Linked DNA regions of Homo sapiens: region 2 is linked to region 1. The links come from fine-mapping of genetic effects on gene expression. Tissue or cell type: sun-exposed skin. Region 1 holds a variant in brackets; the other region holds the start of a gene. All regions are shown on one strand. Distances are between the middles of the regions.

Region 1 (5,264 bases):
TGCAAGCTCCGCCTCCTGGGTTCAAGGGATTCTCCTGCCTCAGCCTCCCAAGTAGCTGGGACTACAGGTGCCCGCCACCATGCCCGGCTAATTTTTTGTATTTTTAGTAGAGACGGGGTTTCACTGTGTTGGCCGGGATGGTCTTGATCTCCTGAACTCGTGATCCGCGCACCTTGGCCTCCCAAAGTGTTGGGATTACAGGCATGAGCCACCGCGCCTGGCCAATCCTTTAATTAATTCTTAATCAAGAAACCTTTATTGAGCATCTACTGTGTGCTAGGCACTATCCAAGGCACTTTCACACACATTAAATATCCTTTGCAACTTAATAACAGTTTCTCAAATCCCTACTATGTGCCAAATATTGTGGTAGGTGCTTGGGATGCAGAGATAAAGAAAGCAACAGCACATCTCTCAAATTTCTTACCATAGGGTGGGCAAACAACCAACAAGAATTTACTTATTATGTACCTATTGCATGCTCAGCTGCCATGGACTAGGATCTGTTGGGAATAGGACAGAGGGATACACTTGTGTATTCAAAAGCTCAAACTCGGGCTTGTGAAACAATAACTAACTGAGTACTTGAATTTAGTATACAGTTACACGATCATTAGATTGAGCAGGAGAGGTTCAGAGAAATGGAAAATTTTGAAGAAATAGGGCCTGGAAGTGTCCTGGGAGATAATTTTTACAGGATGCAGAACTTGAACTAGATCTTAACATATAGGTAGGATTTGTATATGTAAGGAATGAAGGATAAGAAGAGGTATTTCCAGGACATACAATAGGAATAAGTTAAGAAAATAGAATATATTAAGATCCTTTCCAAAGCTATAAGGCTTCTAGTCTCAGAAGTCAGTGTCTGAAGAAGGGAAAGATGGAATTGTCTATGCACTCTCTTTCCAATAATGACCACACCTTCCCTGAACCGTTTACCTGTATTTTGGGGGAGATAAGGACAGGGATGAGGAGGAATAGAAAAGAAGGAAGACTCTTCTGGAAAAGAAGGGACAAAGACAGGGTCTGGTCACGTCCATCTCTCTAGTGCTCAGCTCGGTGCTTGACAGACATTATAGGTGCTTAATGAAAGTCGTAAGGAAATCAACACTCAGAAGCATCAAGCAGCTCATCCCAGGAGGTGGCGCAGCTGTCCAGGACTCAGAAGCCTTATAGTCCTTCTCCATCCTTACCTGACAGATGCTGAGTGCCAATGAGTGTGCATATTAGAGTCCCTGGCAAAGTGCACTGTCATCCTCAAGGACCCCAAACTTGATCATTCCCCTGTTTGAAACGAGGCACGGTCCTTTTGCCTCTGACAGGAGGCCAGTGAAGAATGAGTTATGTCACAGAAGCCAATAATTAAGTTTGCCTGAAATTGATTTATGGCTTAAAGATAATAGATGTTTCTGTGATTCTCTCTGTGCCACTGGAAGATAGAAAAGAATGCTGAGACCACAGCTGTCTAGCTGTGTAAACTGAGTTCAAATCCCGGCTATGCAACACCTGGCAACTCACTTAACCTCTCTAAGCTTTGGTTTTCCCATCTGTAATTAGGGGACCGTCATGCCTCCCTCTCAAGGCTGTAGTGAAGGTGAAATGGAGTTAAACTAACAACGGCTAACACTTACTCAATGCTTACTATAAGCTGGGCAAGTTTACATGGATTACTTCCATTTCTACTCACAATGTGATGAGGTGGACACAATTATCATCCCCATGCAAATGTTGCAGATGTGGAAACTGAGATCAAAGAATACAAGTAACTTGCCAAGGGATTCAACCCTCGGCCCCAGGCAGCCAAGCCTGTGCTGTACCCACTATGCCAAGCACATCAATGAGCACACAAGAGGCACATCAGTGCTGATACCTCTGCCCCTTCCTAAAAATATTAATGTGACTCAAGACTAATTTTCAAATTCCAAAAAGGTGGCAACAAAATAGATCTCTAAGTAGATCTCTGATATAATGTGCTCTCCAACTAGCCCAGGGGGAAAGTAAAAGCTCTAGCTCTGGGGCCGGGCGCGGTGGCTCACGCCTGTAATCCCAGCACTTTGGGAGGCCGAGGCGGGTGAATCACGAGGTCAGGAGATCGAGACCATCCTGGCTAACACGGTGAAACCCCGTCTCTACTAAAAATACAAAAAATTAGCCGGGCATAGTGGCGAGCGCCTGTAGTCCCAGCTACGCAGGAGGCTGAGGCAGGAGAATGGCATGAACCAGGGAGGCGGAGCTTGCAGTGAGCCGAGATCGCGCCACTGCACTCCAGCCTGGGTGACAGAGCGAGACTTCGTCTCAAAAAAAAAAAAAAAAAAAGCTCCAGCTCTAACCATTCCAGGTAGGGCATGCAACCGCTCCTAGAGGAGATGGCAAGCTGGCGGCACCCCCAGCAGTCAGGAAAGATACAGCAGCTCCAGCAGCAGGTTCCTCGGGTATAACAGCATGGACTGGGACGCATGCCCTATCATGTCACAGAAAGAAACGACAAGGGCTCACTCACTCTTTACAGGGCTGATTGGATGTAGTGCTAGTTGCTACAAAGTTCAGCTGGCATTCAGTGACATACCACCCGTATCTACGTAAAGCGAGGCCCATAGACATCAACAAATTTAAGAGAATGTCTCGATGACCAAAGGGATAATGACTGCTAACCAGAAGGCCTTTGTTTGCAGGGTCTAGGCCCATCAATAAGGCTTTCCAGTACAACATGGTAACTTGCTTTTTTCTTTTTATTCCTTTGTGGCCAGCTCTGTCCCATTATTGCAAGTGAAGTCAAAGCGCTAAATGCCAACCTCAGCACACTGGAGGGTGAGTCTTAGAACTGTCTTTTCCAGATGGTTGTCTTCCTACCTTCAAAAGCTGGTACTGCCTGGGTTTGCTTTTCAAGGCGGTATAGCTTGAGCTATCCATCCTGCTTCATATTCTGCAAATTAGAGCCCCGGGAAGGTGCTTGGGAGGATGTGCCTTGTGC[T/G]TAGGGCATATGTACTCTTTGGCTAATAACTAACTTCACTGCCACAAGAGGGGTGGCTCCAGGGGGATGAGATGTAGGTTCAGGAACTAAACCCTCACGAGCACGAACCCAAGCAGTGACATTACATCCCTTCTCTTCAGAGGGATTAACACTGATCTTGACCAGGTTATTCTGGGGTTCTCAGCCTGCAGTGGCTGCCCTGAGCATCAAGTCCTCGCACCTTAGCATGGACTACAAGATTCACCACACCCCATCTCCTACTTACCTCTCTCTGCTTCATCTTTCTCTTTACCTTTCTCTGCCCCAGCAATCAAACTGTTTCCACTGCCCTCCTCACCCCTTGCCTTTGCTTTTGCTGTTTTCTCTGCCTGGAAGAGCTTCCTCTCTCCTCCATCCTTTCATTCCTTTAACCCAGGAGTCCCCAGTCCCTGGGCCACAGACAGGTTAGAAACTGGACTGCACAGCCGGAGGTGAACAGTGGGCAGGCGACTGAGCATTACTGCCTGAGCTCTGCCTCCTGTCAGATCAGTGGCAGCATTAGATTCTCATAGGAGTGCGAACCCTATTGTGAACCGTGCATGCGAGGGATCTAGGTTGCATGTGCCTTATGGGAATCTAATGCCTGATGATCTGAGGTGAAACAGTTTCATCCCGAAACCATCCCCCCCAACCCCAGGCCATGGAAAAATCATCTTCCATTAAACTGGTCCCTGGTGCTAAAAAGGTTGAGGACCGCTGCTTTAACAGATACATATTGAGTGCCCATTTCTAAACCTGCAGAGTTTAGCCAGCACTGTGCTAAACCCTGGAGGATTTAATCCTTTCCGTTCTCTATCTCTCTTTATATGTTGTGTTCCCTCCTCTTTATATTTAAGACCCAGCTCAGACATAGCCTCTTCCAGGAAACCTTACCTGACAGCCCCCACTCCGTAAAGTTATGCCTCCTCTGTGCTCACATGACACTTTGGACATCTCTCTCTCACTTTGCACTCCATCCATTCATTCACCAATGGCGCGCTGAGCACCTGAAATAGCCTGAGCACTGTTCTTGGTGCTGGGGATGCAGCAGTATTCCCAGGCAACAGACATACCTGCCGTCATGGGAGTAGTGGGAGGAGACAGACAGCAAGCAAGATAAACAAGTAAAATCTAAGTTATGGCAGTGATAAGTGGTAAGAAGAAAAATAAAGCAGTGGAGGAGGTGGAGAGGAATTTCCATTCTAGATAGAGTGACCAGGAAAGCCACCACTGAGCAGGTGGCATTACTAGAAAAACCCAAAGGGAGTAGAAAGTGAGCTGCTGCTCAATCTAGATGAAGATTCCAGATCGAGGAAACTGCAGGCACAAAAACCCTGAGGCTGAATATCTCAAGTGTGCTGGGGAGGCTGTGAGAAGGACACACTAGGAGCAGGGGGTTGGGGGAGAGCAGGCAATGAGGCCAGAGATGGGGAAGAGGGGATGGTTTGATCTTCAGGGATGTGTAGGGACTGCAAAGTCCACCTCTTAATCTAAGATGGGATGCCTTTGAAGAGTAAGGCCGGCATGACTTAACTTACAGTTTAAGGAGATCGGTCTGGCTTCTGTGCTAAAAAAAATAGACAGGAAGGAAGGGGGTCAAGGGCAAAAGCAAAGAGACTACTTAAGAGATGAGTGCAGTGACCCATACAATTAATGATGGTGGCCGGCCTAGGGTGGGGTGATGAAGATGGTAAGGCATGTTGGGATTCTGGATGTACCTTGAAGGTCAAGACAGTGGTTTTTGTGCAACAGATCAAATGTAGGTCAGGAGAAGAGTGAAGGGTGACTTTGGTGGGTAAAACCCTAAGCAATTGGAAAATTGGAAGAAGGGATTTAGCATTTATTGAGATGGGAAAGAACCTAAGAACAAGTTTGTAGCAGGATCATCAGGAGCCCAGTTTAGATCAGCCTTTGCTGTGTTGTATTATAATTTCCTGTTGATATATCTGTCTACTCCCCAAGACTATGAGTTCCTTGGGTGCAGGAACTTTGACTCACCGCTGTGCCCCCAGCGTCAGGCACAGCACCTAGCCCATTAGATTAAGAAATATCAGGCGCAGTGGCTCACTCCTGTAATCCTAGCACTTTGGGAGGCCAAGGTGGGAGGATTGCTTGAGGTCAGGAGTTCAAGACCTGCCTAGGCAACATAGTGAGACCTTGTTTCTATATAAAAAAAATTTTTTTTTAATTAGCCAGGCATGGTGGCGTGCGCCTTTAGTCCCAGCTACAGGGAGGCTGAGGTAGGAGGATTACTTGAGCCCAGGAGGTTGAGGCT
Region 2 (5,000 bases), 22 kb before region 1:
GATGGAAAGATACTGTTATTTTATGGTTGTTTGTTTGTTTGTTTGTTTGTTTGTTTTGAGAGGGAGTCTCGCTCTGTTGCCCAGGCTGAAGTGCAGTGGCGAGATCTTGGCTCACTGCAAGCTCTGCCTCCCAGGTTCACCCCATTCTCCTGCCTCAGCCTCCTGAGTAGCTGGGACTACAGGCGCCCACCACCAAGCCCGGCTAATTTTTTGTGTTTTTAGTAGAGACGGGGTTTCACTGTGTTAGCCAGGATGGTCTTGATCTCTTGACCTCGTGATCTGCCCGCCTCGGCCTCCCAAAGTGCTGGGATTACAGGCGTGAGCCACCACGCCCAGCCGATTGTTGGTTTCTTTCTAACAGAGAAAAGGAATTGAGAATGAGCAGGGGATGGGCTGGGCAGGGGCCAGACAGTGAAGGTGGGAGCAGGGGAAGAAGATGGAGCCAAGAAGCTGCTCTGGAGAGGAGAGAAACGAAAGAGGAGACCTCGGACCCTGGAGAAGGACAGGGAGAGAGGGGGCGGGGGAGGAAATTGATGTTGCCACCCGGGGAAAATAGTGAGGAAAAGGTAGAAAGATGTAGAGGTGTTTTGTGATTTTTTTTTTCCATATAGTGCTTTTGATGTTGTCCTTCATCTTCCATGTTGTCCTTCGTCTTCCATGTCTAGCTCTGTATTTTTTCTAATGCACAGTACAATTTCAAGAGCTTCTCTGCATAGCGCCTGAACTCATCTTCCACACTTTCAGTAGCACATGCACGTGGGAAGCTGCCTGCAATGATCTCATTCATTTCTGTGGCTTTAACTCCACCTTTCGGATGATGACTTAGACATTCATATTTCCAGTTGACCTCTTCCCTGAACTCTACCCACCTGACATCACCATTTACATCTCGAATACCATAACTTCTGCCCCAACTCCATTTCAGACAAACTGGCTCACCTTTGCAGTTCCCTCCACCTTTTCCTTTCAGCACTTTGCCTGCCTGGCTTCCAACGGTCACATCTCAGCGCAAATAATCACCTCCTCAGAGACGCCCACGTGGGTATCCTGATAAAATAAGCCCACCTCCCCCAGTTGCATTGCTCTACCTATTACAAGACCACCTTACCAACAACATTCCCTTAGTTCCGTCACAGTACATGTCACAATTTATACATTTTTGTTTATTTTATTGTTTGCTTATTTATTTTGTCTCCATCGACTAGAACATAAACTCCTCGTGGACAAAAATTTCATCTTTTTTGCTGAAGAGGACTTTGCACATTGTAGGTGCTCAGTAAATCTGTTGATTGAATGAATGAATTCATCTATGATGACCGACAATAAATGATCCCATGAAGAGCGTCTCTGCACCGTATCATTATTGATACGGCCACGTGCTAATGAGTAGAATTTCACAGCAGTTTACAGTTTTAATAGCGCATTCTCATGTGTTATTATGTTTTTCTTCACCAGAACCAATCAAGGAAGTTACTATTTCTATCCCCACTTTACCTTAAGGAAACTCAGTTCAAATCAGTAAGTATAACCCAAGGTATAACTCCCCTGAGAAGCTGTGAGAAGTATGGACAATGCCAAGTGAAAGCGTCTGTGGTTCCTTTCAGACTGACTTATCATCCTGATTTTCCCAGGACTGTTCTGGTTTTAGTACTGAAAATCCTGCATTCTTGGGAAACCAGGACAGTTGGTCACCGGGTCTTACCCAGAAAAGTGTAGATAAGCCATAAGAACTTCATGCAATCAGGCTGGGTGCGGTGGATCATGCCTGTAATCCCAGGACTTTGGGAGGCCAAGGCAGGTGGATCACTTGAGGTCAAGAGTTCAAGACCAGCCTGGCCAACATGGTGAAACCCCATCACTACTAAAAATACAAAAATTAGCCAAGTTTGGTGGTGCACACCTGTAATTCCAGCTACTCAGAGGGCTAAGGCACAAGAATCGCTTAAACCCTGGAGGCAGAGGTTGTAGTGAGCCAAGATCATGCCACTGCACTCCAGCCTGGGTGACAGTGAGACTGTCTCAAAAAAAAAAAAACCAAAAAACAAAAAAAAAAACTTCATACAATCAAATCCCTGGCCATCTAAAATACATTAATGGCCGGGTATGATGGCTCACATCTGTAATCCCAGCACTTATGAAGCCAACACGGGTGGATCAATCACATGAGGTCAGGAGTTCGAGACCAGCCTGGCCAATGCAGCGAAACCCTGTCTGTACTAAAAATACAAAAAATTAGCTGGGCGTGGTAGCGCACTCCTGTAATCCCAGCTACTAGGGAGGCTGAGGCAGGAGAATTGTTTGAACCCAGGGGGCGGAGGTTGCAGTGAGCCAAGATCGCTCCACTGCACTCCAGCCTGGGTGACAGAGTGAGACTCCATCTCAAAAAATAAATAAATAAAAATAAAAATAGATAAAACACATTAACTAAAATGAATTTATTGGAGATGAGAGTAGGGCTGGAGTTTGGAATCTGAAAATGTTAAGTTGCATAATAGTTGATGAACCCACCCACCCAACTTAGGTTTAAGGAATGCTGGAACAGTAAGTCATTAATAACATTCTGAAAAGGAGCGGACGGACACTGAGAGATGCCAACTGAGGTCCTACCCTGAGTGATAAGGTAACTAGGTCAGCCCGATTGTCAAGCCTCATGCTTTCAGACTGAATCTGATGATCCACCACAAGTCCCAAAGGTATTCTGGGCAGTAGTAGAGCCATCCACCGCAGGCACCCTGACCAGAAGGAACCAGCTTATGATTCCAGACAGGAAAATTCTTCCTCTTCCAATGCAGTTTAACACCGTTTTCAATCATTTTGGTAAAGTAGCCATCACAATTTCACAAGTGGTGTGTGTGTGTGTGTGTGTGTGTGTGTGTGTGTGTTTTGCAGGAAGATAATTATTGCATAGGTGGCACTGTCTGTTTATCTAGGTAGATACTGTAGTGCTCATTCATGCCATTGGGTAATTGTAGTGAAGCAATTATGTATCACATTTTGAAAGAGGCATTAAAAAAATTCACCACTGAGATGAGTCAGACTTAATTATCTTGGCTTTTTAGCAGCTGAGTTTAAGGCGCAAGGTGGAGAACACATCAGCTTCAAAGGCAGAGAGAATCGAAGGTGCTCTCCAGCTTTGGACACTTCCTCTGCTTGAGGTAAGACTCATGAACAAACTTCAGGTCTCTGCCAGCCATGATCTCCAAACTGGAGATGTCCCAGATTTGGTAGGACACTTTGAACAGGCAGCTGTCATATATCCTGGGTTATTATTATTGTCTGCCTAGATTTTTCTGTATCTTTGTTTGTTTGTTTGTGTGATGTCACATATGCGCACCTGGAGGCTTCTTAGGCAAAAGCTTTAGTGACAGCTAAACAGCCATAAGAGAGAAAAGAGTTGGTTTAAACCACCTACTTAGTTTTGCATCATGGAACAATGTTAAGAGGGTTGCTCAGTGATCTGGACTTATTTTTGCCTCCATTTCAGAGGGGAACCCAGCACAGTGGCAGAAAATTCTATCTTGTCTCTCAAAATCAGCATGGTTAGGACTAAGGAGTTGTTATAATCTCTGTGCTTTCAAGGCAGGTCTTAAAGCACATCAGTGACCTAGATCCTGCCAGAGCAAAACTAGCCACCCACTTGCCTGGACTGTTGAACTTGTTGGTGTTAGGCATAGAGTTTTGGGGAAAAGACATGCTATGAATTCTCAAGGTCCTTGTCATTAGAGATGTTGCTATAAAACTAGATGTGAGGAGTGGATCCCTTGAAATATTCTGCCCACGTTCCATACCTGTCGATTTAGACTTCTTATGTACGGTCATTTTGTCTTAACCAATATGTCGGAATACCCTTCTAGTTTAGACTTCTTTAAACCTGTTGAACTTAATTTTTCAACCTGCGCCTCTGTTTTGAAGGCTACATTTTACTCATTCATTACTCCCTTAATCGGTTTTTCCAGAGTCAGTCAAAGCTCTTGCCAAGCAGCAGTAGTAGTAGGACCATCTGTGAGTTTCAGGTGTTTTCTAAATTGGACTGGCATTTTCTTAGCTGTCAGGATGACTCACACAAGGACCATTTAATTTAGGAGTATTATTCTGTCTGTGTATTTGTATGGAAAAATAATGACTACTGAGATTTTGAATCTTGGAAAGAAGCAATTCCCCAGAAGCAACAAAATAGATAACTTGCTGGTGGGGTTTTTAAGTGATCTTGGATCCTTTTAACAGGCAACTAGCCCTGCCTGCACTTGTCAGCCAAATTACTTAACCTTTTAGTAGTCATCACCTTGCTTGACAAGGTTCCTTTCCTCCCCTGCCCATAAGTTATCATCGTAACTGAACAATTCAATGAAAAGTTATGTACAATTCACCCCTTCATACCCCAGTAATTTCTTTCACTCATAAAATTTCTAGAGGAAAAATATGTTTTCCTGCCTGTAATTTTGGATTCCTGGATCTCCATCAAAGTGTACCACTTCAGAAACTTTTTTTAACCAAGAAGGGAAAACAGGTTTTACTGCTGGCAGGGAATTTAAAACTCCAGTTGTGTCCAAGAAAATAAGAAGGGATTTGCACTGTGATGCTTGAACGTTTCTAGATGCTTATTGAATTTTTCCACCTTGAAAATGGTGTTTGGTTTTCTGTGCACATGTACCCTAGAACTTAAAGTGTAATAAAAAAAATTGAGTAACTTTTAAACAACAACAACAAAAAGGAAAATGGTGTCAAGCAACTCCTATTTAAAATTCCCAGATGAAAATGAAAACCCTAGCATGTATCGAGTCATTCAATAAAAATAAATTCATCAACACTAGAATTAGGAACCAGAAGAACAAGGTTGGGTTCCCAGGTGCCTTACTTACTGTGGGATCTTGGACGAGTCATCAGATTCTCTAAGCCTCCATGTCCACGTGTCTAAAATGGGAGTAAGATAATAAGAACATCCACTTCAAAGAACTGTGAGTTTTGTAAAGGGTAAAGAAATAAAAATTTATTATTTTAGT

Evidence for each region. PIP is the estimated chance that this variant, and not a neighbour inherited with it, causes the effect.
Region 2: it holds the start of BPIFC, and the variant in region 1 is fine-mapped to the expression of BPIFC in sun-exposed skin (GTEx, PIP 0.98).

The regions. Positions count from the first base shown.
Region 1 is chr22:32,440,215-32,445,478 of GRCh38, reverse strand. It overlaps BPIFC (BPI fold containing family C), which reads left to right. Exons shown (of 17, transcript NM_174932.3): 8 at 2,748-2,808. Among named protein-coding and RNA genes, the nearest start is that of BPIFC, 22 kb to the left of the region's middle. The variant T/G (reference allele first, on the strand shown) is at 2,972.
Region 2 is chr22:32,462,529-32,467,528 of GRCh38, reverse strand. It overlaps BPIFC (BPI fold containing family C), which reads left to right and starts at 3,083. Exons shown (of 17, transcript NM_174932.3): 1 at 3,083-3,155.